Linked DNA regions of Homo sapiens: regions 2, 3 and 4 are each linked to region 1. Evidence: fine-mapped expression QTL. A gene starts in region 1. Each other region holds a variant in brackets. All regions are shown on one strand. Distances are between the middles of the regions.

Region 1 (7,852 bases):
TAAAGCAACCACCATATTTAACATAAAGAAGAAAATCTAAAAAGACAATCTAGTAATTTAAATGGAATATGAAAGAAAAAAATCCAATTTACCCATAAGTTCTCAGAAAACAAGGAACAGAGAAACAAGCGACAAATGGAAATGAATGAATGAGAAAAACTTCCCTCAACCACTGTTATTGAACACTGAATGGCTCTGCAAATAAGCTTTTACTACAGACTCAATAATGTTTCTTTATGAATTTAACCTAAAACTACAAGGCAAAATAGAGCTTATATGCAAAACTTAAACTGCAGTAAAATCATTTTGACACAACTAACATTGTTTGAATCACAAATAATGTCAAGCTGTTTTACACACTTCTCATGCTGTCAAAAGTTAAAACAAGAAGCAAGATCTCCATTCCAACACAAATTTGCAGCAGTTATGTTTTTCTGAACTCAAACTACAGTACCAACAGTGTTTTCTGAATTTCAATGCAAGTGCAAAGGAAATTTTCATATTTAAAATTTACTTAACTGTGCAACTGAGAAGCTTCCATTTAACCTTCAACTGGAAGTGATTAATCTGCAATGTAATGGCATGCTAAAGGGGAAATATCAAGAGAATTTATAGAATTCTAATAGAATTTTAGAAATGCCTTCTAAGCAATGAATACACTCAAGTAAAATCATGTGCTCATGGGTTGGTATCAGTATTTGGCGGTATCTGTCTGGGTAGAAAGACATTTCAAAAATGAAGTACATAAAATCTCATAAAAAATCAGCATTAATAGATGAACATCTGCAGTCAATTTTTATGAAAGAACACTTTGAACACCAAGTGAAATGTTACTTTCCCCCCAAAAGAATTCCATGCCTTTCATTATTATACCTGTATTAAAATTGCTATTATTACACTTTGAATTGACAAAATAAAAAACTGTGGACTTTTTTTTCTTCGTGTTATATAAGTATCTACCTGACATTCTCAATTTTGTCTCTTGGCCCACAAAGACTAAGGCATTTACAGCTGGGCCCTTTACAGAGATTGGCAACCCCTGGTCTAAATGTAGTTTTTGCTACAGTTGTCAACTATGTTTTTTGCTTTGGAACCACAAACATTCTACTTCAAACTACTACTTCTATGAATCACTTGTAGACGTTGAGGAGGAGTTAGGAAGAAAAGTCGAGAACTAATTTAGTCCTGGGGTTAAATAATAATTGTAGCCAACTTGAATTGAGCACATATATTGTGCAGCTCTCTGCTAAGGAGGCATTTGTATATATTTTCTTATTTAATAAGATAATCTTATGAGCTAGGTACTATTTCTCCCCATTTTACAGAAGCTTAGTGACTGTGTTGTCAGGGATCACATTGCTAAGTGATGTGGAAGACATAACCTAGCAATGGGACATCTAAACCAATGTCTGCAACATCAATTAAGAAAAGCAAAAGAGGCCGGGCGCGGTGGCTCACGCCTGTAATCCCAGCAATTTGGGAGGCCGAAGTGGGTGGATCACGAGGTCAGGAGATTGAGACCACGGTGAAACCCCGTCTCTACTAAAAATACAAAAAAGATTAGCCGGGCGCGGTGGCGGGCACCTGTAGTCCCAGCTACTCGGGAGGCTGAAGCAGGAGAATGACGTGAACCCGGGAGGCGGAGCTTCCAGTGAGCCGATATCGTACCACTGCACTCCAGCCTGGGCGACATAGCAGACTCCGTCTTAAAAAAAAAAAAAAAAAAGCAAAAGAATACAGAAAATTGTTAAAGGGGAGAAGGGGGTGGTCAAAGGCAGAGGAGTCGGTGTGGACAAGACAGAGATCTCTTGGAGAGAGGGCAGGACTACCAGTTGACAAAACCTGTTCAGGTTCCTGGAGGCTCACAACCACCAGTTCCCATCATCCCAGCAACAGCACTCTTTCCCACCCTAGCCTCGTTCGTAATGATCTGATCAATGTGTGAACAAAAATATTGTGTGTACAAGTCTCAACACATTTGATAATGTGAAGAGGTGAAGGAAAGTGGGTAGGAAAAATCTGTAGGGTGGGGAGACTCGGGGAAATGTGTCCTGGTCCAGTGCAGGTAACATATATGGGTATATATGCGTATATACATATTTATACCATATTTAATATATTACTCTATTAAGAAATTATAACAAATTTCCTTTTACATTACACATCCACATATTAAACCCCCAATATGTGCTAACAAGGTTAGAATTTAAGTATAATGATAATGTTCTCAGTTTTTTGTGGTGGACACTTTAAGAGAGTGTAAATAATAATAAAAATAATAGAGTGATCAGATCACTTGTGCTCAGGGCTAGACCCTTCAGCCCCAACGGCCTTAACCCCCCTCAACTGCTTTTCCAACCAAATATTCCTCCCCCTGCAGGATCCCAGGGCCATCCAATCAACCGGCCAATGACGGTTTCAGAGAAGCGGTCCTGGGGAGGGGTATTATCTGCAGGAACACGTCCTGCCAACTTTGTAGTCGAGTCACCTATTTCGGTTGGTAGCGGCCGCTATTTCTTTAAAAGGGCAGTGGATTTCGAAACAGGAGGGGGAGGTCAGGAAAAGGAACTCAGCTGCCTTTGATAACTGCCCTGCAGCCTTCCCTTCCCGGAGCGCGTGCTCGGCTCGGGAAGCGCCCGCGGCCGCCGCATCCCCGAGCGGGCGCGTGGCGCCACCTCTTTCCGGGGCGCCCACCTTCCCCGGGAATCCCCCCGCCCGACGGTCCCCCAGCGTCTGCGGCGCGGCCGCCCCGGCTTTGTCTCCGGCGTCGCGCTCGGGCGCCCGCTCTCCCCACATTTCCCCGTGTGCAGGCTGTAACCCGATCTCCCATTTCCTGGTGGATTCTCTTAAAGAGGCAGCGGTCGAGAAGCAGAACAAAGGCTATTGTTTTATTTCCTCCTTCGGATTCCGCGTCCTAACCGGAATGGCCCTTCATAGATAATTACTTTCGTTGCATCTGCGCTTAGTGAAACGTTTCAAAACCCTTGTGCACATCGATGTATCCAAGAGACGGAGCCAGGGGAGGTGGGAGGAGTTTAATAAAACCTGTTTTGTGGTGTCTGGGGCCACAATGTAACGTTTTTTAAAGGTGTCTTCCTTAAGCCCGGAAATTGGCTCGGCCAGCGGGAGGTCTCGCGGCGTGGAGGGCGGGCGCCCGCACCGGGGGCCGGCCTGGGGGGCTGCGCCGCTCGCCCCGCTCGCAGCCGCGGCCCCACGCGGCCCCGCTACCCGGGTTTCCTCCGCCCGCGCCCCCGCGGCCGCCCCTCCCCCGCGCAGCTTTTATTTCCCCGATGCCGGGCTGTAACCCGAGCTTTTATTTCCTGGTGGCTCCTTTAAGAGGCAGAGCTCAGTGCTGGGAATTCACGTCAGTTTCTGCACTGAAACTCTCAAGATCAATGAGCAAAGAGCTTTCTCAGTTCTGCCTTTCAGTTTCTCTCTTCCAGGAAGGAAAACATTCGAGAGAGCGAGGGAGAGCCGCGGGAGGGCGGGGGGCGGGGGCGCCGGCTGCGGGTGGGAGGAGAGACCGGGAGGCCGGCCGGGCTGCGTCCCGGGTCCCCGCGCCGCGCCGCGACCTGCAGACCCCGCCGCCGCGCTCGGGCCCGTCTCCCACGCCCCCGCCGCCCCGCGCGCCCAACTCCGCCGGCCGCCCCGCCCCGCCCCGCGCGCTCCAGACCCCCGGGGCGGCTGCCGGGAGAGATGCTGGAAGAAACTTCTTAAATGACCGCGTCTGGCTGGCCGTGGAGCCTTTCTGGGTTGGGGAGAGGAAAGGAAAGTGGAAAAAACCTGAGAACTTCCTGATCTCTCTCGCTGTGAGACATGTCTGAGACTCCTGCTCAGTGTAGCATTAAGGTAAAAATCTTCTCCCCTCCTTCTACGTGGTGGAAACCCTGAGCTGCACCGGCCAGGGCAGTCGTGCTGGGCTCCTCAGAGCAGGCTGTTGCAGTTGCTCTGTTCGCAGGAAATTATTTGGGGCGAGAGGGAAAGAGATGCAGCTCGCGGTGGCTGCTGTACCCTTTAGCGTAACCTTGCTACTCCCCCCCACCGCCGAGCCCCTGCCGGCTCCTCGGCCCCCACCCCCTTGCTTTTTGACAATGAAATGCCGGTCACAATTGGTCAGAGCAACCCGGATTGTCTCCAGAACCGTAAAACACCCCCGTAATTAGTGCGCTTAAAAAAAAAAAAAACAAAAAACAAAAAAAAAAAACCTGCTCCCTATTCCTACACCCAACATGTGACTGAAATATAACTTTTGTTCCCGAGGGGTGGTCGTCTTAGAAAAAAAGTTGTTCAGTTTCCACTGCGATAGAATCTTTTTATTTTTTTAAAGGACTCTCTGGGTCTGATCAGACAGGATTTTTTTCCCCCTCGTCTGATTGTAATTGCAAGCGCTGTCGGAGAGACAGTCCTGGTGTCAGCTTTTCCTAGGCATTGCACAATGAATTTTTTTTTAAAACCAAGGTGAATAAAGTTGCTGAATAGTTATTTTACTCCGATCCATATGAAAGTTGAGCAATCCCAAAGTAGAAAACTCCTGTGATGGAGGGAGAGGAAGAACTAAGCAACCAGGCAAAATGACCTTCTGTGTTTGACAGTGCAGAGAGGCTATCTAAGCAGCACTCTGTAAATGCAGGGCGGTAGATGTTTGTAAACACACTGCTGGGCTACCCAGTAGTTGTGTGTATGCATGTCTATATATCTGTAAAGACTGTGGTGCTGCGGTTTGTTGCTTCTAAAAAGTTGTTGTAAAGTTTGCCACCATTGGGAGGCAGGATGATTTATCCATCTACCCGTGTTATTTTTCCCATCGCTGCATTTATTGTACACTTTATTCATTTCGCTGTTCCACCAGTACCCAGGTAGAAAGCCTTCCGCTCTTGTGAGAGGCTGAAGCTGCTGAAGTTTGTTTTTGGTTTGGCCTATTTAATGTGTGTTCACTGAATGGACACTACAGCAACAATGAACAAATAACCTGTTTTCTTCGTCTGTGGGGAGTTAGAAAAACCCTTCCTGGTTTAACACTGCCTTTCAATTAGAGTCTGTGTAGGGGAAACGCAGTAGTTCATCATACGTGCTTACTAGGTTTTTTATAATTAGAATCACATTTTGGTGTTTCTTATCAGAAAAGATATTCATGGGTTTGAGGATAGGCTAATGTGAAATCAAAAGGTGGTTTGGGCTTCTTTGTTTTTGCCTCACAAAAATGCCTAATGGAACTTTTAGGCTTTTGTGTTTGTACATAACTGGAGGTAGCAGTATGTATGTCTGTGGGCATGGGGCGTGCCACACTAAAGAACTTAGGGTACTTTGATATTAATACTTCAAAACCAGTTTCTTTTGCGGTATAAATTAGATTCTACACAGAGTTCAGGAAAATCCTGCGGTATAGATAATCTAATTTATTTGACGCTTCATAACATAGAGGTAACTAAATAGTAGGATATTCAATAAATAAATTGTATTTGGCTCAGTGGCAATAAACCCGACATCAGGAAAATCTGCCAACTACAGATCAGTAACTTTAGGGCAAAAACAACAAAAAACAATGCTTTCTGTGACGTTTCTTGATCCTCTTCTATACTGCATCCCCACCGTTTTGATGGGCTTATGGTGGTGTGCTGGCTGCAGACTGCTACTGAGTGGTTTGTTTCATTGTGCTCCAGTCGGAAAAAGAGTACAACAGTCCCTTGCCTTACTCACATACAGAACCAATCCCAAGCAAAACGCGTTCTTAAATGCAACATGAAAATTGTCTGTAATTTGCATATCATTTTTTTCCTTATTGCTTACAACTCAGTTCTTTCAGGGTGCCTCTTTTCATTACTGTGTACTTCTATGTAATTAAAATAGATTTAATGTTCTTTACCAGAAAGGAAAGAATCACTTTTATTTTGGATCGTTCTTTATGGAACGAGTATGTATTTGCTTAGACTGCATGTGTCTAGGTGAACGTATGTGAAGAGTATCTTTCCATGGAGTTTGTTTAATTCAGTGTTCCAATAATAAGCACTAGAGATCAAGGACTGGGATTATTCCAGGTCATCTGAAATGTTCTGGTGATGTGTGCTGCGTTTCATTTAGTCCTTGGGATGTGGTACGGTGACTGCATAATAAAAAATGTTTGCTGGTAACCCACAAGCAAGTTGCTTGCTTCTAGAGTCCAGTAAACAATATGCTTTTCTGTGTAGTGAAGAACGAATGTCAGAGGTTTTCAAGGATGAGCTGATGAACCTGATATACCGAACTCCTGTGACACAAAAGGCTCTCACTGTGGAGAGGTTTTTCCCAGTCCTCCTCTCCACTCCTGAAACCGTCCTCACTTGCTTTCATTCCTTACAAGTAGCGGGTCAGCAGGCAGACAGTTCCTCAGCGGCTGGTGAGATGCAGCCACAGAGGGAAGTACTTTGTTTATTTCTGAGCAGTGCCTGCTCTGCTAGAAAAGAGTAGTGTCCGATTTGGGTGGAGTTTCCAAGGTGAAAGTTTCTGAATTGGTCAATCAGTGACGCCTTTGTAAAGATGGCTCATGTGGTGGTCGCTCGCAATGAATGCCTGATAAGGGCTTTTCTGTTTCTTTTGCACTGTGTAAGTTTGCTCCCATCGCCTGGGGAAGTTAATATCAGACACACACTTTTTACGGTAGAAGAGAGGTTGACTACTCCAAGGGCACTGAAACTCTCACTGAGCCTTATTGTTTCTCTACACGCGACTTGCAGAAAGCAGGAGTGCTCGAGCACTCCTGGGGGGGTCTGTCCTACAACCCTTGAAGGTTGTGGCACTGTTGTCATGGAAGTTCAAATGCTTCAATTCCTGACCATTTGGGGTCGTTTAAATGGAAGGAAAGGATCAACTCTCTATAAAAAGTCAAATTGTTTTAAAGAGGATTGCCTGGCTGACTGTGCTGGTCACAGGAAGAAGGAAGAGGCTGTCTTTTCCATCATCAGCCTTCACCTTCAAGTCACCTCTTCAGTTCTAAGTTTGACCAAGTTGCAGCGGAAGGTGGTTGTGGCCTAGCAGACACGGTCCCTTGTCAGGCTTGGCACAGCTTGTTAGTGGGCCAGGACTAACCAGAATCCAAAAACGAGTCACACAGTGTCTCTAGTCCCCTCCTTCCCTGCTGTCCGTATCAGTCAGCTTTCATAGCAGAAGGAAATCTGGTTTTTAAAATTTTGCTACTAACTGGGAGACTCTTTCGAGCTCCCCTTCTGGACTCTGGGCTCCTTGGGTTTAGTGATGATTATCTTGGTGTCCTAGTAGTTAGCTTGGCAGCTGGCATAGAAATATTTCTCAGTAATGTTTGCTGATGTGAATGAAGTGAGAGGTGGGAGGAGGCCAGCCCCCTTTCCTCTTTCTGTCTGCGTGTAACCTCAGGGTGACGTAACACTTTCATCCACTGGCTTGCTTGCAGAAAGCACTCAATAGGGCCCACTACAGCCTTAGAGAGGGCTAGAGCACTCCTGGGGGGTCTGTCCTCAAATGCTTATTAATAGAATTTTGATACAATAATGTTTTATAATTTTTTTTTGGAGACAGAGTCTCGCTCTGTCGCCAGACTGGAGTTCAGTGGTGCGATCTTGGCTCACTGCAACCTCTACCTCCTAGGTTCAAGCAATTCTCCTGCCTCAGCCTCCCAAGTAGTTGGGATTACAGGTGCCCGCCACCATGCCCGGCTAATTTTTGTGCTTTTGGTAGAGATGGGGGTTTCACCATGTTGGCAAGGCTGGTCTTGAACTCCTGACCTCAAGTGATCTGCCCGCCTCAGCCTCCCAGAGTGCTGAGATTACAGGTGTGAGCCACTGCGTCCAGCGTAATGTTTTATTATTTTGATAAAATTCTCAAAAACTGCTTTTGTGTCAAA
Region 2 (7,852 bases), 160 kb after region 1:
AACAGATATGACCCCTGCCTTCATGTTGCTTACAGTTTAATAGGGGAGATAAGTGTCTACCAAGGAATTCACACTAGCCAGAGAGCACATTGCCCACACAGCATCCAGAGTAATCTGTTGTAAGATAAATCAGACTGTTACTTCCCTGTGCCAAAACCTCCACTGGCTTCCAGTTTCATTTGGAAACCTTCTGAGTTCTCAGTATGAACTGCCAGGCCCTGTGTGATCTGAAATTTGTAAATCTCGTCAACCTCTCCACCCTCATCCTCCATCACCTTGTGTTCTGCTAGTTCCTCTTCAGCCACCCTGATCTTTTTGCTATTCTTGGAACACACAAGTTTATGTTCTACCTCAGGGCATTTGCACTTGCTGCCCTTCTGCCTATGAAGCTGTTTCTCCAGATACTCTCATGTTAGAGTCCCTCACCTTATCCAGGCCTCTGCTTAAATATCACCTCCTTAGAGAAGCTTCCCCAACAGCATTATCCAAACGACACCTTCCTTCACTCTCCATCACCTTTATCCTGCACTATTTTTCTTCTTGGCAATTTTCACCACCTGACATGTAATTTTTTAAAACACTGGATGGTGACCCTTAGGTATCTATTCAAAATGGCCATTCTTGTGCACAGCTGGGGTATGATGCCAGTGGGTCCACCTGTAGGGTAATTGGATGGGCCTGGCTGTCTCATGGGAGACTCCAGAGTCTTTTCTTTTGGGAAGGCAAGTTTGTCCAAAAAGAAATCCTGTGGGCTCCTCCTTAGAAAGAGTCAATATATGATGGCACTTGAGCTTTTACCATGAAGATTTCCACTGAGTTCCCCTATATTCCAGAGCTGCTCACCCTTGCTCCCTCCTGAACTTGGCGTTCTCAGATTCATCCTGATTCCAGCAAGGGAAATGTCCTTTCATCTGCAAGGAGGTGCAGGTTGCTGGGCTGGGGGAGGGTGGAATACAGCCATGCCACAGATGCTTTATTAGTCTTCTCTGTTCCCTGCCTGCCTTCAGAGGCACTTGGAACCCCCAGTTTCTGAGGTTTTATGAAGTTCTGGTAGGAAAACGAGTTTGTTTATTGGTATCTCCCCCTGCAGGCAGATTGAGTTAAGATTTTCTGCTCAGCTGAGTCAGATACCAATTGTCCGTCTGTTCCAGCTTCCAAAATTTTGTGCACCTCCCTCAACTGCCATTGTTTCCTCTCCCATTCTGTTGTCTTGTGGGTTTGTACCTTTTTTATTCCTCTATCTGGTTTAGTGGGACGTCAGACAGGAGCAGGGATAGACAAGATATGTCTCATCAATGTAGTTACATGTGGAGGTAAAAGCATTGATGTAGCAGTACAGGATGCTTTGAAAGCATAAAATACAGAAATCTGGTCTGGTGTGTCGCATACATTTAAGAGGAGACTTGAAAGCTAAGTAGGAGTTAATTGGGCAAAGAAGAAGGTAGGATTATTTCTGGGGAGGGGAACAGAGCCTGTGAAGGCCCTGAGACTGGAAGAGGATTTGTTCTACAGGGAATGGAAAGCCCAGCCCAACTGGCATTCATTGAATTTGCTGTGGAAAAGCAGAGTGACACATTGCTTTGGTGAGGATTGCAGATGGTGAGGTAGAACAAGACAGTCACGTTAAGGATTTTGATCTTTATCCTAAGAGCAACAAGCATCCGTGTCTGTGTTACCTCAGTAACCTTGGACCTCGTAAACTCTGGGTTCTTTTATAAACCAGGCACAGTAATATCTACCTCACAGAGCTGTGTGCATTGCATGACATCATATACACACTATATTGACTTAAGACTGTCATATTTGTTTGCTCAACTCATGGATATGAAGGGCAGACTGTATACCTTGTCAGGTACTTTTTTCTTTTTATTGTATCCCATGGGGGAAATGGATGGTAGATTGGTGGAGGTGGCTAGAATTGTAAAGAAAAATATGAAATTCACATGAAGGCTGGAGTTACTCATATGACAACAACAGCTTATGGGGCCCAATTCTATTGCTCTTGCGTCTGTCACACAGTTGAGGTTTTGGAATGAACTACGTATGCCATCCTTGTTGGACAGTGACAAGTCACTGTAGCCCCCTAGGAGAAGAACAGTATAATCAAGATGTCAGGTTGAGGAATAATCTTTGTGATCAACTGAGTGAAAGGTACAAAGTAAGAAACAATTGAGAGGCATTGCTCTGGGCCCAAAAGTCTAGTAACAGGCAATTAGAGGTTAAAGGATAAGCATTTGATAGTGTTCTAGCTATACTGCAAAATGAATGCTGCATGAAGGCTAACTGAGAAGCTTATCAGTTGGTAGTTGGGAACTAAAGAGGAAGCAGGCACCAAGGAAAGATGGAAAGTTCTACACACCTTTGTTAGTTACACATGGAGGTAAATGCATTGATGATGAATCTGCCATTTTTAGGTTTTCATGTTTAAAAAGTTTCCTGACAATGTGTCTAGCAATGTGCTAGACACTGTAGATAATATACAATAAAATATTAAAGAGGCGGCTCGTCCTCAAGGAACTTTCAAGCATTCATACATTTCTGTTTGATTGTAACATATTTATTATTTTAAAGAACTGGCCAGAGAGTTGCATGTTCTGTGTAGGGATAAATAGCAAGTTTCAGGCCCCTGCATTTATTGGCACTTACGTACATGGTAGTCCTCACACCTTTGCCGGACAGCACCAAAAATCCTGCGGAGCTCAACTCTGTGACCTCACCCTTTGAGCCTGGAAATCAGCATGAACTCATGATCTGACAATCCCGAACAAGCTAAGCATTTCTTAAAAGAAAGCAGTGACTTTTAATAGGTCTCACTGATGGTGTTCCACCGATTAAATCAGTCAAACAGAATTGTCACATTGAAGATTATCTTGGGTTTCTAGAATTCATTCTAGGTTTTAAAGATGCAGACAGATTCTGAGGGTCACAAACGTCAGTTTGCCAAGTATGTTTAGGCTGTAAAGTTATCCATGAAAAGACCGTGTGGTTTGCATGAGATTGATTGTGATCGGATGTAACTACATTGCTTTTTACAGCTCAGTAGAAACCACTTTCAATTGCAAATTGTAGCAGAAGCAGGCGTCTACTTAATTTTGATCTTAAAGAATTTCAAAGAGAATAAATGCACACTAAATAGTGGTGGATTTTGGTAGTATACGCCAACATCACTTTTTATTTAACACATGCAGAAATGTGTACTGGTAGAGAAAATTGGTAGAGTGAATTAAAGTACAGACAGATCCACATTGACTTTAAATGAATACATGCACGGTCAGAAAACGGTAACCCTGGGCAGGAATCTTTAAGTTTTCAGGGCTCATTAGACAGTGAGCAGGTGAGGCTCAAGGCTGAGTTTGCAACTGTGCTGTGAAAACTCAAAAATGAAAGTTTTTTTCATTTCTGAGCCTGTTGAAAAGTGGGTAAGAAGGGAAAGGGCAGTCTCATAATAAAATAATATGTAAAGGCTAACCAAATAACCCACTTTAGTCTTTACTTACTGGCAGGCAGCAACATGTCCTATTTACAGAGGGAGGCTTTACCTAAGTGGTTATATGTAAATGAACCACCTTTTCAATGAAACAGGATGCACCTGTCTAGAGGTGTCTGTTACTAGAGCAATGGATGTTTGATTGGACTGACAAATTTTATTTCCTTTTTGGAAAAAAGAATGTAGGTGGTATCAAATCACCCTTTCTCCTGGTAACAATAGGAATTACTTCTTGAACTTGAGAAACCAGTAGTTGCTTGAC[C/T]TATGTTTTTTGCATTTAGCATAGTCTTCTAAAGTAGTAGGAGCATACGTTTTTGTCTTTAATTCCCTGCAGACCCCTTCCCCAATGATCATCAGCAATACATCCACCCATAAATCAATGAAATCATAAAAAAGAAACATAAAATTCACTTGAAAAAGAATACCTACAAGGCATTCCTAGAATTCTCAATGTAAGTCATTTTTTGCCAGCAAAGCTAATTGTTCTCAAATATTTGATAACAAGGATGGCATACGTAGTTCATTCCAAAACCTCAACTGTGTGACAGACGCAAGGGCAGTAGAATTGAGCCCCATAAGCTGTTGTTGTCATGTGAGTAACTCCAGCCTTCATGTGAATTTCATATTTTTCTTTACAATTCTAGCCACCTCCACCAATCTACCATCCATTTCCCCCATGGGATACAATAAAAAGAAAAAAGTACCTGACAAGGTATACAGTCTGCCCTTCATATCCGTGAGTTGCACATCCGTGATTCCATCCAGCCACAGATAGAAAATATTCAGAAAAACAAAAAACAAAAAAAAAAAACCCACAAATGCAACAATAAAAAAATACAGACTTTCAGAATAGCATATAACAACTATTTAGATAGCATTTACATTGTATTCGTTACAAGTAATCTAGAGATGATTTAAAATATACAGGAGGATGCACATAGGTTATATGCAAATATACACCATTTTATATAAGGGATTTGAGCATCCTTGGATTTTGGTATCTGGGCGGGGGGTCCTGGAGCCAATCCCTTGTGTATGCAGAGGAATGACTGTACTGGAAAGCAAAGTAAAGCTACACCAAAGAGGGTAATAGCAGGCTATAAAGTACTGAGAGAAACTAAGAGAAGAAAGTGAGGTACCTCTGACAAAGGAGTGCTTGGAAGAGAAAGGATGAATAGAAAAATGGGATTTCAGGGAATTCATTGATGACAGGATGACCTACTTAAAAATGACAAGGGCCATGTGTGGTGGCTCACACCTGTAATCCCAGCACTTTGGGAGGCCAAGGTGGGCAGATCACTTGAGGTCAGGAGTTGGAGACGAGCCTGGCCAACACGGCAAAACCCTATCTCTACAAAAAAATACAAAAATTAGCTGGGTGTGATGGCACGCGCCTGTAGTCCCAGCTTCTTGGGAGGCATGAGGTGGGAGAATGACCTGCGCTCAGGAGGTTAAGGCTGTGGTGAGCCGTGATCGTGCCACTGCACTCCAGCCTGGGTGACACAGGGAGACCCTGTGTCAAAAAAAAAAAAGATAGGAAGTGAGCAAAAGAGAGGTCATAGATAATGGCATGATGAAACAGAGGAAAAAAAGGATAAGAAGGAGGAAGAAAAAATGTACAATAAAACGAGAAGGAAGGATGCAAAATGAATATAGGAAAAACAAGAGAACTGAAGACAAGAGGAAAAAAGGAGATGGTAGAAGGGAGGAATGAAAGTAAGTAAAATAGGAATGAAGTTCAAGATCTATTTAGCCATAGCTAAAGGAACGTATTATCAGCTATTGATTTCCTCTTCTAATAAAGAGGAGAATGATATGGATAGTCCAGAATAATGGATCATTTGCAAAACATTAATGTGTCTTGACTTAAGGTACATGTTTATAATTACCTCGAACTGTATATTTGTCTTCTTCCATGTGTGGTTTTAAATTATTTTACCAAAATGGGGAAGCCAGGAGATACATACTTGATTCAGTAAAACCAGCTTTTTATTCGTAGTTTACTTCCTGCTGCATCCTTTTTTCGGCTGAGAGGGATCAATGTCTGCAGGTGTCCCTTAATCCATAATTAAACCATATGCACATCTACCCTCCCAGTTTCCCTGCCCACCATAAAACCTTCATCTTGGCTATTGCTTGGAAAATGGGGAGGGAATAGAGCTTCTGCTTTTTTTTTTTTTTTTTTTTTTTTTTGGAGAGAGTCTTGCTGTGTCACCCAGGCTGGAGTGCAGTGGCGTGATCTCAGCTCACTGCAACTTCCGCCTCCCAGATTCAAGCAATTCTCCTGCCTCAGCCTCCTGAGTAGCTGGGACTACAGGCACGCACCACAACGCCCAGCTAATTTTTTGTATTTTTAGGAGAGACAGGGTTTCACCATGTTAGCTAGGATGGTCTCAGTCTCCTGACCTCGTGATCCGCCCACTTCAACCTCCCAAAGTGCTGGGATTACAGGCGTGAGCCACCGCACCTGGCTGGAATGGAGCATTTTACTTGAGACCTCTGTGAGCTGGTCCTGAGTATGAGTAGTGAATTCCAACCCACTTTTCTCCTAATCCCTGTCGTGTCCTAGAGTGAGAATATACAGAGGGGTTGGAAGTGGGTTTATGTTCATGGGCTTTCTAGATGGACTTTCAAGTCCAAGTAGAAGTCCAACTTGAGAGCTCGTGTAGAAAGCCCTTGAATGTAAACCCGTGAAGAAAAGCACTTCCTTATTTCAGAAAGAGCACAAAAGACCAGCAATCCAAAGGCATTTCGAAGACCTTGAAAGAGCTGGGAGTGGCTTAGGTATGGAGGGTGCATGTGTGAGTACAAATGGCCCCTCAGCTCAGAACCAAGCATCTGTGTGCCATGATCCATGGTTCCTAAATATCATGGAGGGCAAAAAGTATAAATGTGAATTAATGCAAGAGAAACCACACTGAAATAAAAAATACCTGTGGTCTCTTGAGATTCAAGTTGGCAAAATCCAATCTAAAAGATGTCTGACTATCACAATTAGTGAAGTCCACAGGTCAGATTTTCCTCTCTGTTCCTGATTAGGATTAACCTGGAAAGGTGGATTGGGTCCATCTTTAATAATAACTACACCTTCTGAAAGATTTGAAACTATTATTATCTCTTTGTTTGCTGCTGCTTTCATAGATTTATGGTAGGACTTGGGGTTAGATGGATGATCCAGGTCACCTATTCCAGCCTCACACTCTGCCTCTATTCCAAATATGACATCACTGAGCGATGGCCACCCACCTTCCCTTGGATACCTCTAACAATGGGAATCTCACTGTTTCACAGGCAGCTCTTTTTTTTTTAAACACCTCCAATTCCAATTTTTAAACACCTCCAATGTCCAGAAAGTTCTTTAAACTCTTAAATACATGACATTTATTAAAACAAAGCCTCAAACCACTTTCAGAGTGGTGGTACAGCAAATAATTGATTCTTTTCAGGGTTTTTCCCCCCTGTGTTTTTTGTCTTCTCTAACTCAAATCATTGCCCGGATATTGCTTATAACAGGAGCTCAGCCTCAACCAGTCTTTCTGCTTTTACCACATGCTCTAGTGGAATCTAGATTACCGGACTCATTTCGAATCTAACTAAAAATGAGAAATGCTCTGTTTATATAAAGCTTGGCAATCAATAGGAAAAGGAAAGGCTGTTTAGCAAAGGCCAGTGATAATTCCAAGAAGCAGTGTCTTTTGGAATATGCTATGGTGACCTGGCCACTGCAGCTATCTGCTTATCTGTCTGGTTTCAGATTTCCAGAAAGGACTCGCTGCCTTCGAAACACTTCCCAGCCCTTCCTTGGGTGCCTGGATTTCTACCATTAGCAGTTTACTCCTTGAGCATGGATTTTTGCAGAAAGACATGTAGACCAGGGAGATGGCTCATTAAGCTCTTGGTGGTCATTTCACCAGAGCATTTAGCATTTTTAAATCCCTTCCTGGATGCTTGTTTTAGTGATGATGGTGGTGGTGAGATGAAGCAGGGATGTGTAGATCATGAAGGGATGGGAAAGGGGATGATTTGGTTGGAACGAAGCAAAATAACATTTCTGAGTGCCTGCTAAGGTCCAGCACTTTTCACACGTAAAATTTTCACAACAATCCCTGTGAGTTGGGATCCAGTTTCTACAGATGAGGAAATGAAGACAGGAGACTAGATGACCTGACCAGGTCCTAGGCCAGTCAGGAACAGAGCTGGGATTTAAACCAGAGCTGCCTGGTCCAAAACCTGTGCTGGTCCTGCTATTTTATGACACCTAGAAGGGAAAAGGGCAGAGAACTGGAAAGCTGAGATGGAATCACCTACTTAAGAATTTTGCAGAAGGCTAACCCTGTCTAAAAGCATCGCTTTGCAATCAGACAC
Region 3 (7,852 bases), 240 kb after region 1:
TAGGGGATAAAAGAGGAGAAAAACTGCAGATGCTACAGATCATACTGCTGGAGAAGTTTGCCAGTAATGAGCAGGAAAAGCAGTAGTAGCCAGAAGATTGATAGGCTTCCAATAAAAGATTTTCAGTAAGAGAAAGGAATAGTGCTATTAGTGAGGGAGAGATTAGTCCATTTTGAGGAAATGAATGTTAGAAGCCAGACTTGCCACAAAATGAAGGTTTCTTGGTATAAGACCTAGTATGTAATCAAGTGAGGTGTTGAATTGTAGATACTCTTTACAAGATGTTTGAGTGTTGAAGAAGATGGAGGTTTAAGTGTTGAAATCATGGACTAGTGCCATTAAGCAGCTCTTTGATGAGGAGACAGAACACAAAGAATGAGTAGGACTCAACTCGTGAGAAGAGTCAGGAGGGCTCCAGATAAGGGAAAAGCTAAAGATACATGGGAGAGCATGCGCCATGATTTATACAAGAGCCAAGACCGCTAGACTGCATTGGGTTCATACTGATGAACAGTGGAAAATAAGAGCTTCCTAGGTAAAGATGGCAGAAAGACCCGATGAGCAGAGCAAAGGATGCACCTTTGACTTGATGAGTGGTCATTTTAGGCTTTTGCATGTGGAGGAATGAGAGAAAATGTAAGCTCTAAGATAGTGGCGCAGGGCAGAGTATATGGGGAGAGAAAGGTGTGCAGGCACAGAAGGGGACTGGAACGGGTGCTCCTACAGTGTAGGTGGAACATCTGCAACCAGGCTGCCTTCCTGAGCCATGTAAATTATGGTCAAAACATGTCACTGATGTCACTTCCAGTTTAACCCATTGAACAGGAAGATGAGGCTTGCTGTACACCCCAGTTGCAAAGGTAGACAGACTAAAGAGGGTTCATTGCTGGCATTTTGGGTGAATCAGTGATAACATTGTAAAAGATTTTTTTTTTTTTTTTTTTGCCCTTCCAATTTTCCAGAAGCTCCACTAAGTTGTCCTATTGTCAGCATTTTTCACTTAACATTTAACTATATCCTTTGAAATTTAAGTAAGTTTTGAATACCATTTCCTGGGCTCACAGTCTGGAATGGAAGTGGATATACAGCTCTCATGAGTCTGTAAAATCTAATTCTGTAAAAGAAAGAACATATATACATGGTCTGGACCAAGGCTTTCTCGTGTGGTCATGCATTAATGCACCACGTGATCCCAAAGGGTGCTCACTACGTCACAGACAGCCTAGACTTTTTTTTTTTTTTCCAATAATTAGGATTTCACTTTGTCACCCAAGTTAGAGTGCAGTAGCATGATCATAGCTGACTGCAGCCTTAACCTCCTGAGCTTAAGGGATTCTCCCACCTCAGCCTCCCAAGTAGCTAGGACTACAGGTGCACACCACCGTACCCAGATTTTTTTTTTTTTGGTAGAGGTGGGGTCTCGCTATGTTGCCCAAGCTGGTCTCAAACTCCTAGGTTCAAGTTATCTTCCCAACTTGGCCTCCCAAAGCACTAGGATTATATGCATGAGCTACCATGCCTGGCCCTAGTCTTTTTAAATAAGCATTTTACCACTTTTTAGACAGTCAGAGAAAGGAGTACCTTTTCCTAATTTGCACTAAGTTAACATTAATCTCGGGGTTCAGTAGCTCTCCAGCTGTATAAGATGATGGAGTCTTTCTTTATATACAGGCTAGAGTTCAGAGTGAAGACAGCTTTAGGAAAATGGAATCTCTTACCTCCTCCACTTCTTCTTCCAAAGGTTTATGAAAACCCCAGATGAAATCATGAGTGGCCGAACAGACCGTCTGGAGCACCTAGAGTCCCAGGAGCTGGATGAACAAATATACCAAGAAGATGAATGCTGAAGGAACCAACAGTCCACCTCAGCGGGCCAGCAGCCCAGGGAACCCCTGCCCACCAGGATTGCTGGAAGTGTGACGGAGCAGGCGGGCTGAGGAGAGTGGAAAAGGAAGCGACCCAGAAATGGCAGGGACACTTCTCTTGCAGACCAAGAGGGACCCTGGAGCACCTTAGACAAACTACCCAGCACAGGCGGGGCTGGAATTCTGGCGGAGGGCATGAGCCTGGGACTCCATGTCACGTTTCCTTCTGATTTGGAATCTCTCCATCTGTAATTCCTCACCCTCACCCTTCCACCGTTGTTAGTATCATGGTGTTTTTGTTTTTGTTTTTGTTTTAAGAACCTGCAGTTTGACTCTTCATCGTTCATCTAGGGGAAGACATCTGATGTTGTTTTCCTATGGAAATATATATCTATTATATATATATTTTTTGCAAATCTCACAAAGTGCGGCAAGCCCAGCTGGTCAGGAAAGAGAATACTTGCAGAGGGGTTCAGGTTCCTCTTTTTCCTGCCACGTGGATCAGGTCTGTTCCTGTTACTGTTGGGTCTTGGCTGAAAAAAAAAAATGCTTTTAAAAAAGATAAAATGAAAAGGAGAGCTCTCTTTTTCTCTCTCTTGCTCTGTTCTTCCCTTGGTCCCCTCTGTCCTCCCGCCCTGCCTGCAGTTGAGATTCAGATGCCTTCTGACAGAGTTCAGCCTCTTGGAGAGTCTTGGGGATTGTTGGCACCTAAACAGAATCAGTGACCCGGGTGCTTTGTGGCCAGCAGCACAGAATCAAACCCGCATCCCAGCATTGGGCCACCCATCTGAGGGAGGCCAAAATCATCACAGATGCTGCTGTGCTGCAGACAGATACATGCTAGTCCAGAGAGCCGCCCCTGAGATGGCTGTGAGAACCATGTGTCTAAGGCGTAAGATAAGGATGGAAGGCTGTCCAAGTTATTTGGAAGGCCTCGGCAGCTTGGGATTAGCTTGGGAGCGCAGCGCTGCAAAGTGGAAAATATGAAAAGACCACACAGGCCCAGCAGTCCAGAAACTGGGCAAAAATATTCTGCAGTGGGGATTTATTTTTCCAAAGCAGGTAACAGAGGCTAGTGAGAAAGAAAAGCTCCTCTCTGCTCCATTCCAAAGGCCATCTTGTGGTCAGTTTCATGCCCTCACCTGATTTTTTTTTTTTTTTTTTTTTTTCAATTCCTAACCTTTTTTAAAGTTTCCTGGTCTCCACTGGACACAGAGCTTTGGAGACGGAGGATCCCAGAGGGCAGTCTCAGTTGCAATCAGTGTGTGCCCAGCCTGGGCAGACAGGAAATTCCTCGGATACATTATTTTTTCTTTCTTTCATAGCTGTGTCTCAGAAAGGACCCATTTGTGGCTCTTTTTCACCTCAAAATAAGATCGATGGTATCTTGTAAAATGAGGGTAGTGCCACTTCTTAGTATTTTTGAAAGCTGTTTTAGATTTTTTTTTTTTTTCCTTTTCTAGCCATCTAAATTGACTCTTCCAATATAGGTCTCAGAAATCCAATATTTGGAGTACAATTTCTTTTAATCCAGATTACACCTGCCTTACAAAGCACCCCCTCCTTGTTCCCCTCTGTTTCCTCTACTCAGTTGGGGGAGAAACTCACAGCTCCTCCGGGATACATATGTGCCCTCAGCAGCAGCTCCCAGGTGAAGTTACCAGACCCCTGGGCTTCTCCCCAGCTTTTTCTGAGTTGAGTCAGACATGTAGAGTTTGGGTCACACAGGCAAGAGGAATTTTCCCTCGGCCTTACTGACAAGGACACCAACCTAGGGTGCAAACAGATGGACTATGGTTCAAGGACACTGGAATTGAGGAGCTGATCAAGGCTCTCTTCAGCCTTGCTCTGTCCCTGCCTCTTATCAGAGCACAGGTAGACACACGGGCATAGCCAGCCCACTCCTACTGTCACAGGCGCCCCACCATTCAACCTTCCGGGAGGTCAGGGA[C/T]CTTCTATATGAGGCGAGTGGGTCTCAGTCTGCTTGAATGGTGATGAGATTCTGCTGGATCTCAGCACGCTGCAGGTGTCTTTTGAGAGCATTCAGTAGGACATGGTGATCCCTATTTCAGCCTCTAAGATGACTGGTATTCTATCTGAAATGCAGAGATTAAGCCAAATACCTGATGTATTGTGAAAGCCACTGATTTTAAGAATGGAGAGAAAGGGATTTTTTACTGCATCCCTCTGTATGAATATGAAATCAGAGACCAGGGCATGATGTTGCTAGGATTAGAGCCTCTCAGTCTGGCCTCTTCACCCAAGTGCAAGAACTCAGTCTCTTACTGTTCAAAGAATCTTAACAGTTGAATTATGGAGGGAAATTCCCTTTTGCCCCAAGCATTTCTATATTTAAAGCAATATCCCAGGAGAATATGTTAGACTTAGGATGATACCTTCAGCCACTTGAAGAAGAAATAGAAGGCGCTCATTCCAATATAGTCTTTATTTCCCATTCAGATACAGGTTGAGCATCCCTAATCTGAACAGTTAAAACCCCCAAATGCCCCAAAATCCAAACCTTCCTGAACGCTATGACACCATGAGTGGAAAATTCCACACCTAACAAACACATTTGCTTTCTTATGGTTCAATGTACACAAACTGTTTTATATAGAAAATGATTTCAAATATCATAAAATTACCTTCAGGCTATGTGTATAAAGTATATATGAGCCATAAATGAATTTTGTGTTTAGACTTTGTGTCCATCCCCAAGATCTCTCATTTTATATATATATATATATATATATATATATATATATATATATATATATACACACACACACACATACACAAATATTCCAGGATACAAAAAAAAACATTTAAAAATCCGAGACCCAGAACACTTCTGGTCCCAAGCATTTCAGATAAGGGATATCAATCTGTACTACCAATAAGGATTTCGTAATTCCCCTAACTGCAAATGTCCTCTTCATTTGTTCTTTATGAGAAAACCCGGGTAGTGCCAGCACCTGGATACAGTATTTACACCCTGCAGACCCTAAAGATTTCAGATTCAGTTAGCAAACCTTGATGAAGCACCTGCTGGACACTGAGGGACCCAAAGCTCAATCAGCCATAATCCCTGCTTTCAGAGTTTATATTGTACCTGCCTAATCCACCCGGCGTGACTCATTTCAACACTAAGTACTAGGGGTGTTGTCAGGAGACAAATCTGAAGTCAGGAGAGGAAAATGCAAAGGAGCCCTGCCGTGTGATGGATGTGCATTCTCACTTGGGTCTTGAAGTTCTCATTCCTACATCTCAAGCTAGCCAGGCAGTCTCCTCTCTATCAGAAGAAAGCACTGGTAATTGGCTAGACTGGCTATGTTGAAGGTAACATGAACTCTAAGATCTTGACCCAGGGCGACTTGGTTTTGCTTAAGGTGGCATCACCAATGTTCCAAATCCTTTAGGGAGATGAGGGTATCCCCACAGAAAAAGAGGAATAATAGACCAATGGATTTTCTCCTTTCACCAGTATGTTTGGAACCCTCTGATCCAATGTCTTTTGATACTGATCTCTTGTCCAAATGAGAATGTCGCTTTAGCTGAAATTCAAATGGCTGTGACAATTTACCGAAATGATGAAGTAACCACCATTCCCACCTTTCACTGCCTAGGCTCCAAGTCTGAATACATTTTTGAAATAGGAACTCCCTTTTGCAAAAAAGAAACCTGGGTGTCAGGGAGGTGAAGTGACTTGCCCTAGGAGCAGACAGCATGCCAAGAATGGAATTAGGCTCAGGATCCAGCCTGGGCTCACCCTGTGTGGCTCATTCCCACCCAGGAAACTGAAGATAAAAGATTTGGGAAAACACACCAAGAAAAAGGGGCAGTTTTCTTTGCCCAAGCATTTGGTGCTAGTTAGAGGCTGTTCACTCTCTCCTGCTCCTCTTCGGAGTAGAAATAAAGGCTGTGACACAAGGAAGCCAGTGGGGTGGGAGGGAGGCACCATAATCCCTCCCTAAAACCCACAGAAGACTAACCTGATACTCTTTTGACCCAACTGCATCAACACTAAACAGCTGCAGACCCCCTGAATCTTTCACACATGCCAAGTGAACATTCTTGATGATTTCTCTTTGTGACCGCAACCACCTGCAAACCAGAACGACTCTAGAATTTCCTTCCCCGCCCCCCTTTTTGTTTAGTTTCTAATCTCTTGTTTATGAGGTGTGGGGTTTATAAGGGACTGAATCAAATGAATGTAACAAAAAAGAAAAAAAAAACAAAAAAAAATGCCTTTTCTCAGGGCCAGTGAGTTGCAAATAATTTTTAAAGAAAAGCCTATAATTACATCATCTCAATAAATTTTTTATAAAAAAAAAAAAACCATGAAGTCCAGAGTCTCTGTTTTTAATAATATGAAATGGAGTCAGACAAGGTGCTCCGATGAGGTAAATCCTGTCTCCACTCAATTATGGTATAAAGGGCAATCATGGTTTTTCTCTGGCAGCAAGTCTCCGCTGCAGGGCAGTCTGCAGGCGATCTTTAGACAAGTGGTACCGGAAAGGTCAGAGTGAACCATTCCAAGCTGAGCAGCTGCCACAGGTGGAAGAATTACCAAGAGGAACCGTGATCAGAGATGCTTGGGTCCCATGCTGTGGTGAAGGTTTATTAGCTCACTGAGAACTTAGCAATGCCAGGTCCTCACACAATAGAATTGCCCCTTAAATCTGCTGAGATCAGAGGTCTAAGCCTACCAGGTGATGAAGGCGTAAGGGCTGGGATAGATCCTATGACTAAATACAGGACTGTAATGACCTAGAAGGTCATCACACAGCTCAGAGCCAGCCCACATGCTCAGAATGTCCCAGCCAACCTGACCAACAGAGCCACCCACCAACCAGTGGGCACTTGGGAGTTCAAGATCAAACATTCTGCACTTGACCAGAACTATCTGCCATCAGAAGTGGGTGGAAACAAGGGGAAGAATGGAAGAGGAAGCAAATGCATTGCTGTTGAGCAAATTGGGCGGAGGTTCAAAATGTCTAAGAAATCAGCAGTCTCAGAAAATGTTCTTAGTTTACTTTTGTCTTTAGGTTAACCCAGTTACTCTGTATCCCCTGAGAATGATTGCTGAAATTTGGCCCTATATTCTGTATGATCAGAGCACAGTATCAAATAAGGGTCTAGATATTTTTTTTGTGGTGCTAAAAATGCATTCGAAGCTACTATTTCTATAATGCAGCATTAGAGAACTTGCTAGAAATGCAAATTATCAGTTCCCACCCCATAAACTGAATCAGAAACTTTGGAGCTGGGACCCAGCAGTATGTTTTAACAAGCACTCTGGGTGATTCTGATGCACACAAAAGTCTGAGAGTCACTGCTACCAATTTCTTCATCTTAGTATGAAAGAGAGCTTGTAGCAATTTAAACAATAAACTCAAAATAATTGATGACAACTAATTTGCATCAATAGTACTCACACACAATAACGCTGCATTTTCCTAATGGTAGATATACTGTGGAATGAGGCTAAGTGGACACAGAATCACATACCAAAGTCATCGTCTTGTTTTCTCCAAACCTTTTAAGCAATCAGTTTGCTGTAAAGATGAGCTGTTTTAAAGGGTAACTCTTAACAGCTGACCTGCCCTTGCAAATTAGAGCACAGCAATTTATCCACTTATGCCCACTTATCTGCCTAACCAGCCTGATCTAAAAAGAAAAATAAAAGGATTATTCTCATCTGCTAACTGACCTTGGCTGTCTGTCCCCGGAATTATTAAACAGAGCCTGGATGAGCATTTAGCCAGGGCATTTGCAGAGGACTCTAGAACCACTGGACTAGACCAGTGCTTCTCAAACCTGAAAGTGCTTATGAATCATCAGATCTCAGGGAAAAAAGCAGATTTTGCTTCAGTAGTATCTTGGGAAGTCTGGACAGAAGATCTGTTCTTCTACCCTACTCTCTGGGTGGGGCTTGAGGTGCTGCACTTTTTTTTTTTTTTTTTTTTTTTTTTTTTTTTTGAGAC
Region 4 (7,852 bases), 180 kb after region 1:
TTTCCATATAAGGACACCTGTCATTGAATTTGGGGCCCACCTGCATAATCTTGAGATCCTTAACTTAATGACGTCTGCAAAGAGCCATTCTCAAATTAGGTCTTATTCACAGGTTCTGGGGATTAGGACACGGACATTTCTATTTGGCAGCCAACATTCAGCCATCTCCAGTCACTGAGCTAGTAAGTGACAAAAACAGGATTTGAATTTCGTTGTTTCATTTTATTATAACGTGGTTAAGAGAGATTTTAAATATTTCCATTAAGTTAGCAATTCTTGCCAACAACAGTAGAAAGCATGCCTTTTTTTTTTTTTTTTTTTTTAAAGTCAGAGCCTCATTCTGTCACCCAGGCTGGAGTGCAGTGGTATAATCATAGCTCACTGCAGCCACTCCTAGGCTGAAGCAATTCTCCCACCTCAACCTTCTGAGTAGCTGGGACTTCAGGCATGCACTACCACACCTGGCTAATTTATTTTGTTTTTCAAGGAGATGGGGCTCTTGCTATGTTGCCCAGGCTGGTCTCGAACTCCTGGCCTCAAGCAGTCCTCTCACATTGGCTTCCCAAAGTGCTGAGATTACAAGTGTGAGCCACAGGACCTGGCCAACAGCATGCTTTTACAAATAGTAGGGTAGCAGGAGGCCAGCCTGCAGACCGCCCAGAGACCTCACCCCATCTTACGCTCTGCCCAACCTCAGGGGAGCATTTTTGCACTTGGTGGATTAGCATTACTTGCTCCATCCATGATGAGCCACTCATGCTCTTCACAGATTTTCCAGACTCCCATGTCAAAGTTAAAAAACAGACATCGGCCTCTTTCCAGAACTCAGAATATTCACATCTATATTGTTAACACTCATACCTTTTCCAGCACAGAATGAAAAGCACCTTTGAAGAATCGTAAGCCATGAATGATGACGGGCCGAAGGGAGTGAGGGCTCCTACCTCTTGTCACTCCTACCATCCTGCCTCCAGGACCCCTGCCACCTACTTGGGAGTCTGCCCTTAAAACTCAAGGGTCACCTGACTCATTCCTCCCCACTCATTCATCTGACTACCCACCAAAGCTAAGTGTGAACAGCCTGTATTGATTTATCATTTTCCTTTTGCCTGCTTCCTCTGGTACAGAGATCTTCATGCTTTCATCCAAACGAATGAATAATGTAAAATCCCAGGTGGGGTGACAGAGCCAAGGAGAAAAGTGTTCTGCAGCAAGGGAGGGCCTCCCAGTATGAGCCTTGGAGTCTCAGATAAGCCCAGGGACAAAGCATGAGACATCCAGTTACATATCTGTGGCCCTGGAAGGGGAGACGGGGTTCGCTTTGTGGTGGTGTTTAGCTTTCCTGACTCCAAGTGACCATCTTAAGCCAGGGGATTAGTAACCTTTACAACTCTAATACTAGGGAATATATTAATAACTGGTGAGAAAAAAGATTACAGCTTTTTTATTGATAGGTCTATAAAAGCCATTTCCGTATGAATGTCCTCAGAAAGGAGGAATAAGGGGATGAGATAGAATAGAATAGAGAGAAGTCTGTCTCACACACACACACACACACACACACACACACACACACACACAAATGCAACACAATTATCTTTAAATAGAAGTTGCTTCTCCAAGTTTGTTTTTTTTTGTTTGTTTGTTTCATGAGGCGTCAGCAACGCTGTTAAAATGATTTCATCCTGCCTGTGTGTCACAGCAGTCTGCCCCGCGAAATGCTGAATCAGCAGCAGCCCAGACAGCCTTTCGGTGGAGGGTAGATTCGACACCCAAAGGCAACCAACCGGGCCTTTGAAAGCACTTGGAAGCACTCTCCAAAGAGCCAGGGAAGAGGACAAGGAAGAAGGGGGTGCAGTGGAATTCTCCTTAAAAAACAGCATGTTCTAGAAAAGCCATGCTTTGGAGGTGCTGTAGGTCAGATTTGCCTTTGGGTCCCTATGTGTATTTTCTGAGGTCTGTTCATGTAAAAGTTCAACACCTCTTTCGCACTCCCTTCTCCCAGCCCCCGCGCCCTGCCCCCACACCTCCTGTCCACCTCCACCTCCTCCTCCTGGAATTCAGTGATTATCAGGACTGTCTCCATCCTGAGAAGAGGCTTTTTAAAATTTCGCAGGAGAATAGAGACACCCGAGAGGGCTGGGAACAGGCACAGCTGAGCCACACAAAGCCAAGCCTCCTCCATGCAAGTGACGGACAGATCAGGTCCCAGTTCAGAATGAGAATGAGTTTTACTCTGGTTACACTTTGCACAGGAATGTTCTGCAGACTGTGCCGGGCACCAGAGATGGTCCGTGTGCGGTTTAAAAGAGCAGGAGGGGAAAGAATTTTCATCCCTCTTTATTCAGGCACCCTCAGGAGAGTATCCATGTTCTGTGAATCATGCAAATCCTGCAGGATCTTTATGTTCTCTGTACCCCATCCATTTCTGCTGAGGATTACAAACATTCTTGCACCAACTTTCCTCCAGCAGTTTCGATTTCTCAATAAATCTGTTTGAGGAACATTTCAACTCTTAATATCTATTTTCCTACTTTTTTTTTCTTCTTAAACTCAGGCTTCTTTGTAAGCATACATATCAGTAAGTTTGATAATAAAAATGACCTTTCTGCCCTGCAGTATAGGAAATGCTGCCTTAATGCCTCTTTGCTTTAGAAACTCATCCTTGTATAGTATCTCTCCTTGCATAGCCAAGTTGCCTCATTGTACGTAAATTAAGGTTATTTGCAGTGATTGACCCTAACTACTATGAAGAAAAACTTTCAATATGTTAGCAATGATGTCTATAATAACTGAAGAAGGGACATTCCCTATTTAAGGTCAGGACTGTGCGTTTCAAATAAAGAAATGACAGCTCAAACATTTCATTGTACCCCCACTTCTAAGTGAGAAGAGGGCACCCTTCGTGTCTCTCTTTTCTGTTTTTCTCCCTGAAATATCAGGAGAGACATATATCTCTCTTAAACCTGATTTGGTTTTCGCATTACCTCACAGGTACATATTGTCAGAACTATTTGCATACACGAGACTAAAAAAAATACTAAACGGATTCTCCAGGGATCCATGGATAAACTTGAGGTAGTCTATAAGCTTTGAAATCACAAGCAAATATTTGTGTCCATGTGCCTGTGCATTTTGAAGGGGGGTTTGTTTATGAACTCTGGCTGAATTCTCAAAGAATCCTGTACCTTCTTCCTAACGCTGAGAAGTACTTGCTCTAATCTCTTCCCCACTCCCTTTTTGCTGTCCCCTCCCCATTATCTTTTTTCTTTTTGATATGGACTTTAATTAAAATGTTGATGCTTACGTCACCATACATTTTCTGCATTAATTTTGATTTTTAAAATATTGCGTTACATGACTTAATCTTGATTACTGAAACTTTTTAAAGGTACCCCTTAAATTTTGCTCCTGGGGCAAATGTCTTACTTGCCTCAGCCTAGCCTGGGGCCTGAGCGGGCACCTCCTTCAGCCTTCTTTCCTCCAACCTCTCCCTGATCCAGGCTGTTTTCCGCAACCCCACCTGAGCCATTTTCCCAGCCTGCAAGATGACAATTCAGTCCCCTCCTCAAAGCACTGTACTGGGCCTCATAGCTCCTGCCAGAGCCGTCATGCACCTTCCAAGAATGCTTGCTCCAGCTTCTGCAGCTCCAGGGAGCTGCTGAAAGTATTTTGGTCTTCTGGAGACACGGGACAAAGTACAACTCATCTACTATCCAGTCCTTGTCCTACCCAACCCCCCAAAATGCATTGAGCACTTGCTCTGTACCAGGCACTGTGCAACATCTCT[A/G]TAGGGATCACCTCATTTCATGCTCACATTTGCCCTAAGAGGTAAGTACTATTCTGGACTCCATCTTACCGCTGGAGAAACAGATTCAGACGCGTAACTAACCCAGCGCTAGTAAGTGGTGCAGCCGGTGTTTTAACCCAGGACAATTTGACTGCGAAACCCAAGGTCTGATCTAAAATGCTACATGGCTCTCACCACATTGGGCTTGCTACCCAGAAGCAAAAATGAGAAGAACTCTTCTAAGTCACGTTTGTGAGGCTGAGCGGCAAGCTCTGGGTCAGTTTTGCTGTCAACAGGTTTTCTGCTAAAAACCCGTTTGTAGCTAAAACTAGATAAAAGTCAGAAAAATCCACAAAATGAAGTTTATAAGAAAAAACATCATTCGAGGGAATTGACTGTGACTTTGGATCTGAACATGAACATAGAGTGTTCTTGTTCTTGGACTTTGGGCTGAAAGACATGAGTATAACCTTCCGACCTCCACTTGGAAACTTAGTGCTGAGATACAGGCTAACCTTGAGGACAGAAATAGGAAATGTTTTGGAACTTCCAATTCCCTAGTGACAGGATTTGTTTGCAGAAAGCAGCTTTGGTCAGATAGCACATTCAAGATTACAGGCAGACCCAGAGGAGTGAGATGTGGAGCTTGTCAGAATGCATCCAAGGCTGGCCTGGGGGTTTTGAGCAGATTTGCAGAGAGCAGGCCGGTGGGGAAGGGAAAGGAGGCAGAAAAGTCTCCGGAAAAGTGCCTCTGGGAAGCAGCTTGAAGGGCTCTGAGGACACTTGGTTTTCTTTTGAAGGGCAGAGTACACAGGGAAGAACTCTAAGTAAACCCTGCCCTCGGCAAGCAGAGGTCAGAAGGTGCTCTGTGGGCACCGAGCAGTATTCGGGATCTGCAGCTAGACCAGGCCTGCCATGAGAAGTTGAGTTTATGGTTTATTATTCCTCATTCCCTTAACATTTTTACAGTGCATTTTAGAGTGCAAGGGGCTTTTACATCCATTATTTCCTTTAACCCAGGGGAAGTTCACTGGGTAATACAGAAAGCCTGGAGCTGGAGTTTTGGTCTTAGGTTCATTGTGACCTTGGGAAAGTCCCTCGATTTCTGAACTTCAGTTTCTTCTGAAAATACAGTTGTGCCAGCTTTAGCTCCCTCGCAGAATAGATGATGGCATGACATGGATGCGGAAGCATCTGGTAATGTTTTGAACTGCACAGAGCTGAGTGTCCTGACCATCAAAGCCAGAGCTGGAGTAAGTGATCAGATGTGTCGGGGAGGAGAGGGGTGCCAATCACAGACTGCAGAGCTGGCTCAGATGTGGACTGCCTAGGAATGGAAATCTTTGGCTGTACAGTCTGGCATTAAACCTGGGGACTGTTATGTGCCAGGCACCGTGTGCAAATCACTGCAAAATCCCCTTCAGCTACATGCATGGACATGTTAACTCTTAACACATGTACCTAACAATTCACAATTTCATCTCCCAGAAGGTGGAAGATGCATTGAGGAGCATTGCTAATTTGCACTCAAATCTGACAAATGAGGAATTGTCTGGAAAAGTAGAAATGATAGCAGAGGGTGAGAATAAAAACATGATTTTAGGATTGGGGAAGGGAAATGAGAGACAAGAACAGATGTGTTTTCTTGACTTAAGACAAATTTTTAAAATGTAGGGAAAAGTATTTATGATCTCATGATCTGAATGCTGAGACACAACTCAGAGTCATTTGGGCTGCTCTTGAAAATGAAATCCTGACTTATCAACTGCATATGACCCTTATTGGAATAAGAAGGAAGGGAGACAACTAAAGAAACTGATGAGGCGATATTGGGGATATTCTCTGATTAGCTCAATTTTTAAATAGTTTGTGTGTGTGTGTGTCTGTGTCTGTGTGTGTCTGTGTGTGTGTTTGTTTGTTTTGAAATAGAGTCTCACTCTGTTGCCCAGGCTGGAGTGCAGTGGTGCAATCTCGGCTCACTGCAAACTCCACCTCTTGGGTTCAAGCAATTCTCTTGCCTCAGCTTCCCAAGTAGCTGGGATTACAGGCGCCTGCCACCATGCCCAGCTAATTTTTGTATTTCAGTAGAGACAGTGTTTCACCGTGTTGGCCAGGCTGGTCTCAAACTCCTGACCTCAAGCAATCCACCGGCCTTGGCCTCCCAAAGTGCTGGGATTACAGGTGTGAGCCACCACACCCAGCCCTTAAATAGTTTTTTAAATATAAAAGTAAAACATGCTTAATAGAGAATGAGAAATAAGAAAGAAAAAAGGAAAAGGAGACAGGGAATATCACCTACAATTTTACTGAGTGTCAATTCTTTGAATATTTTTACGTTTCATTGTATTTTTCTATGCATTGAGATTATTACATATGTACACATACTATTTTTCAATATGAATACATACTCTTCATCATGTTACTGGCTGCATTAATTTTCTATCATAGATATTGTCAGTAACTATTACTTATTTCCTTATTGCTGTTCCTAGTTTTTCATTATTAAAAATAACACTGCAATAGACATCTTTGTGCATGAAAGATTCTTCCACATACTAAGTTATTTCTTTAAGGTAGATTCTGAGAAGTTAACATTTACAGGGTTCTTAAAATATCACTAAGTTGTTTGCCAGAGAGATGATGCCAATTTATCTTCTCACTGTTTTGTGAGTACCAGTCTAATGAGCTCCGATTTTTAAAAAGATGTATATAATGGATGAAAAAGCAACTTAATGAAAAGAAACATATAAAGGAGAGTTTCTGAGCTCTAGAATTTTAAAACGTAAGTGAGCTGAAAACCATGGAATACGCTTAAGAAAACAATAAATGTGGGCAGCAGGATAAGAATAAGCATGATGTCAGCCTGCTGATGGGGTTGGATGGGGTAACATCAGCAAATGGCAAAGAAACCAAAACTGTTCAACTTCTTTCTCTCTCCCATGAAGGAGAATGATTGTCAGACTGAAACAGGTAGTGCAAACATTGACAGAAGGGAATTGAAGCCTGAGATGGGTGAATTGATTGTAAAAGCAAACTAAGTTCTGAATAAATGCAAGGCTCTTGGCCCGGACAAATGACATCCCAGGGTCGAGAACTCAGAGGGGTGAAAGATAAGCCACTGGCAGTGATCCTTCAGGGTTGTGGGAAATGGAAGCTGTACTAAAAGAATAGGAACTGTTGGTAACCTGATTTTAGGAAGAGAAGCTGGGGAAAATGTGGGTACGAAATAAAACAGCTAACCTGATGGAACTTCCAGATAAAATTCAGGACAGATTTTCAAACATACATGTTACGAGTGGAAGACATTATCACTTTGGAGCCAGCCATCTGCTCCTCATCCTCTCTCCTCATCTTCTTTAATAAGGTTGCTCTAAGTGTTGTAGTTGCTGTATTTCAGGATATCAGGAAGGCGTTTCGTTGAATTTCTGATGTTGCTTTCATGGATGAGCTTGGAAAATGTCCAAAAACCAGAGTATTTAGATGGATTGATCATTGAACAACTCTTCCCAAAAGGAGTCAATAACTTGATCAGTATCCGTCCAAAAGGAGGTGACTGGTGTGTCACCAGGGTACTCCCATCTCAGCCCTATACGATCTGCACTTTGTCAGTAACCTGTGGAGGTGACAGATGCTTAGCAAAGCCACAGATGACGTGAAATTACAGAGTATAGATGCTAGAAATCGATGGAAATCTGGAGAAGACTGCAGCAGGCTGGGATGATGGTTAAAAATAATAAGATAAAATGTAATATCAATTAATATACATTCTTACAGTTGGGTTCCAAGTGCTAGCTATATATGTTCAGGTAGGGTGAGATTATAAAGGTGATTATAACAATAACAGTACAAAAGCAATAGCTAATGTTTTTTAAGTGATTGCTCTATGCCAGATATTGGCCTGTGTGTTTCATATCATCATCATGTGTATAATTTTACTCTACACTAGTTTTATGTCATCTGAAAATTGTATAAGTACATTATCTATGATTCAATGATATTTAATTCACAGGATGAAAGTTGTCCTCATTTTTCAGTTGACACCAGCAAGACACAGAGAGGTTA

The links. PIP is the estimated chance that this variant, and not a neighbour inherited with it, causes the effect.
Region 2: its variant is the best candidate, but not a certain one, in a credible set for the expression of ETV6 in whole blood (TOPMed, PIP 0.52).
Region 3: its variant is the best candidate, but not a certain one, in a credible set for the expression of ETV6 in whole blood (INTERVAL, PIP 0.83).
Region 4: its variant is the best candidate, but not a certain one, in a credible set for the expression of ETV6 in whole blood (INTERVAL, PIP 0.89).

What each region holds. Positions count from the first base shown.
Region 1 is chr12:11,646,312-11,654,163 of GRCh38, forward strand. ETV6 (ETS variant transcription factor 6) reads left to right here and starts at 3,363. Exons shown (of 8, transcript NM_001987.5): 1 at 3,363-3,849. The coding sequence starts at 3,817. RefSeq lists enhancers at 2,266-2,365, 6,403-6,512, 6,843-6,892 and silencers at 2,546-2,785, 3,076-3,285, 3,496-3,545, 3,556-3,715.
Region 2 is chr12:11,804,159-11,812,010 of GRCh38, forward strand. The region is part of intron 2 of ETV6 (ETS variant transcription factor 6); the gene reads left to right. Among named protein-coding and RNA genes, the nearest start is that of ETV6, 160 kb to the left of the region's middle. The variant C/T (reference allele first, on the strand shown) is at 3,750.
Region 3 is chr12:11,889,200-11,897,051 of GRCh38, forward strand. ETV6 (ETS variant transcription factor 6) reads left to right here. Exons shown (of 8, transcript NM_001987.5): 8 at 1,742-6,178. The coding sequence ends at 1,847. Among named protein-coding and RNA genes, the nearest start is that of BCL2L14, 180 kb to the right of the region's middle. The variant C/T (reference allele first, on the strand shown) is at 3,817.
Region 4 is chr12:11,825,532-11,833,383 of GRCh38, forward strand. The region is part of intron 2 of ETV6 (ETS variant transcription factor 6); the gene reads left to right. Among named protein-coding and RNA genes, the nearest start is that of ETV6, 180 kb to the left of the region's middle. RefSeq lists an enhancer at 4,752-4,951 and a silencer at 6,779-6,848. The variant A/G (reference allele first, on the strand shown) is at 3,791.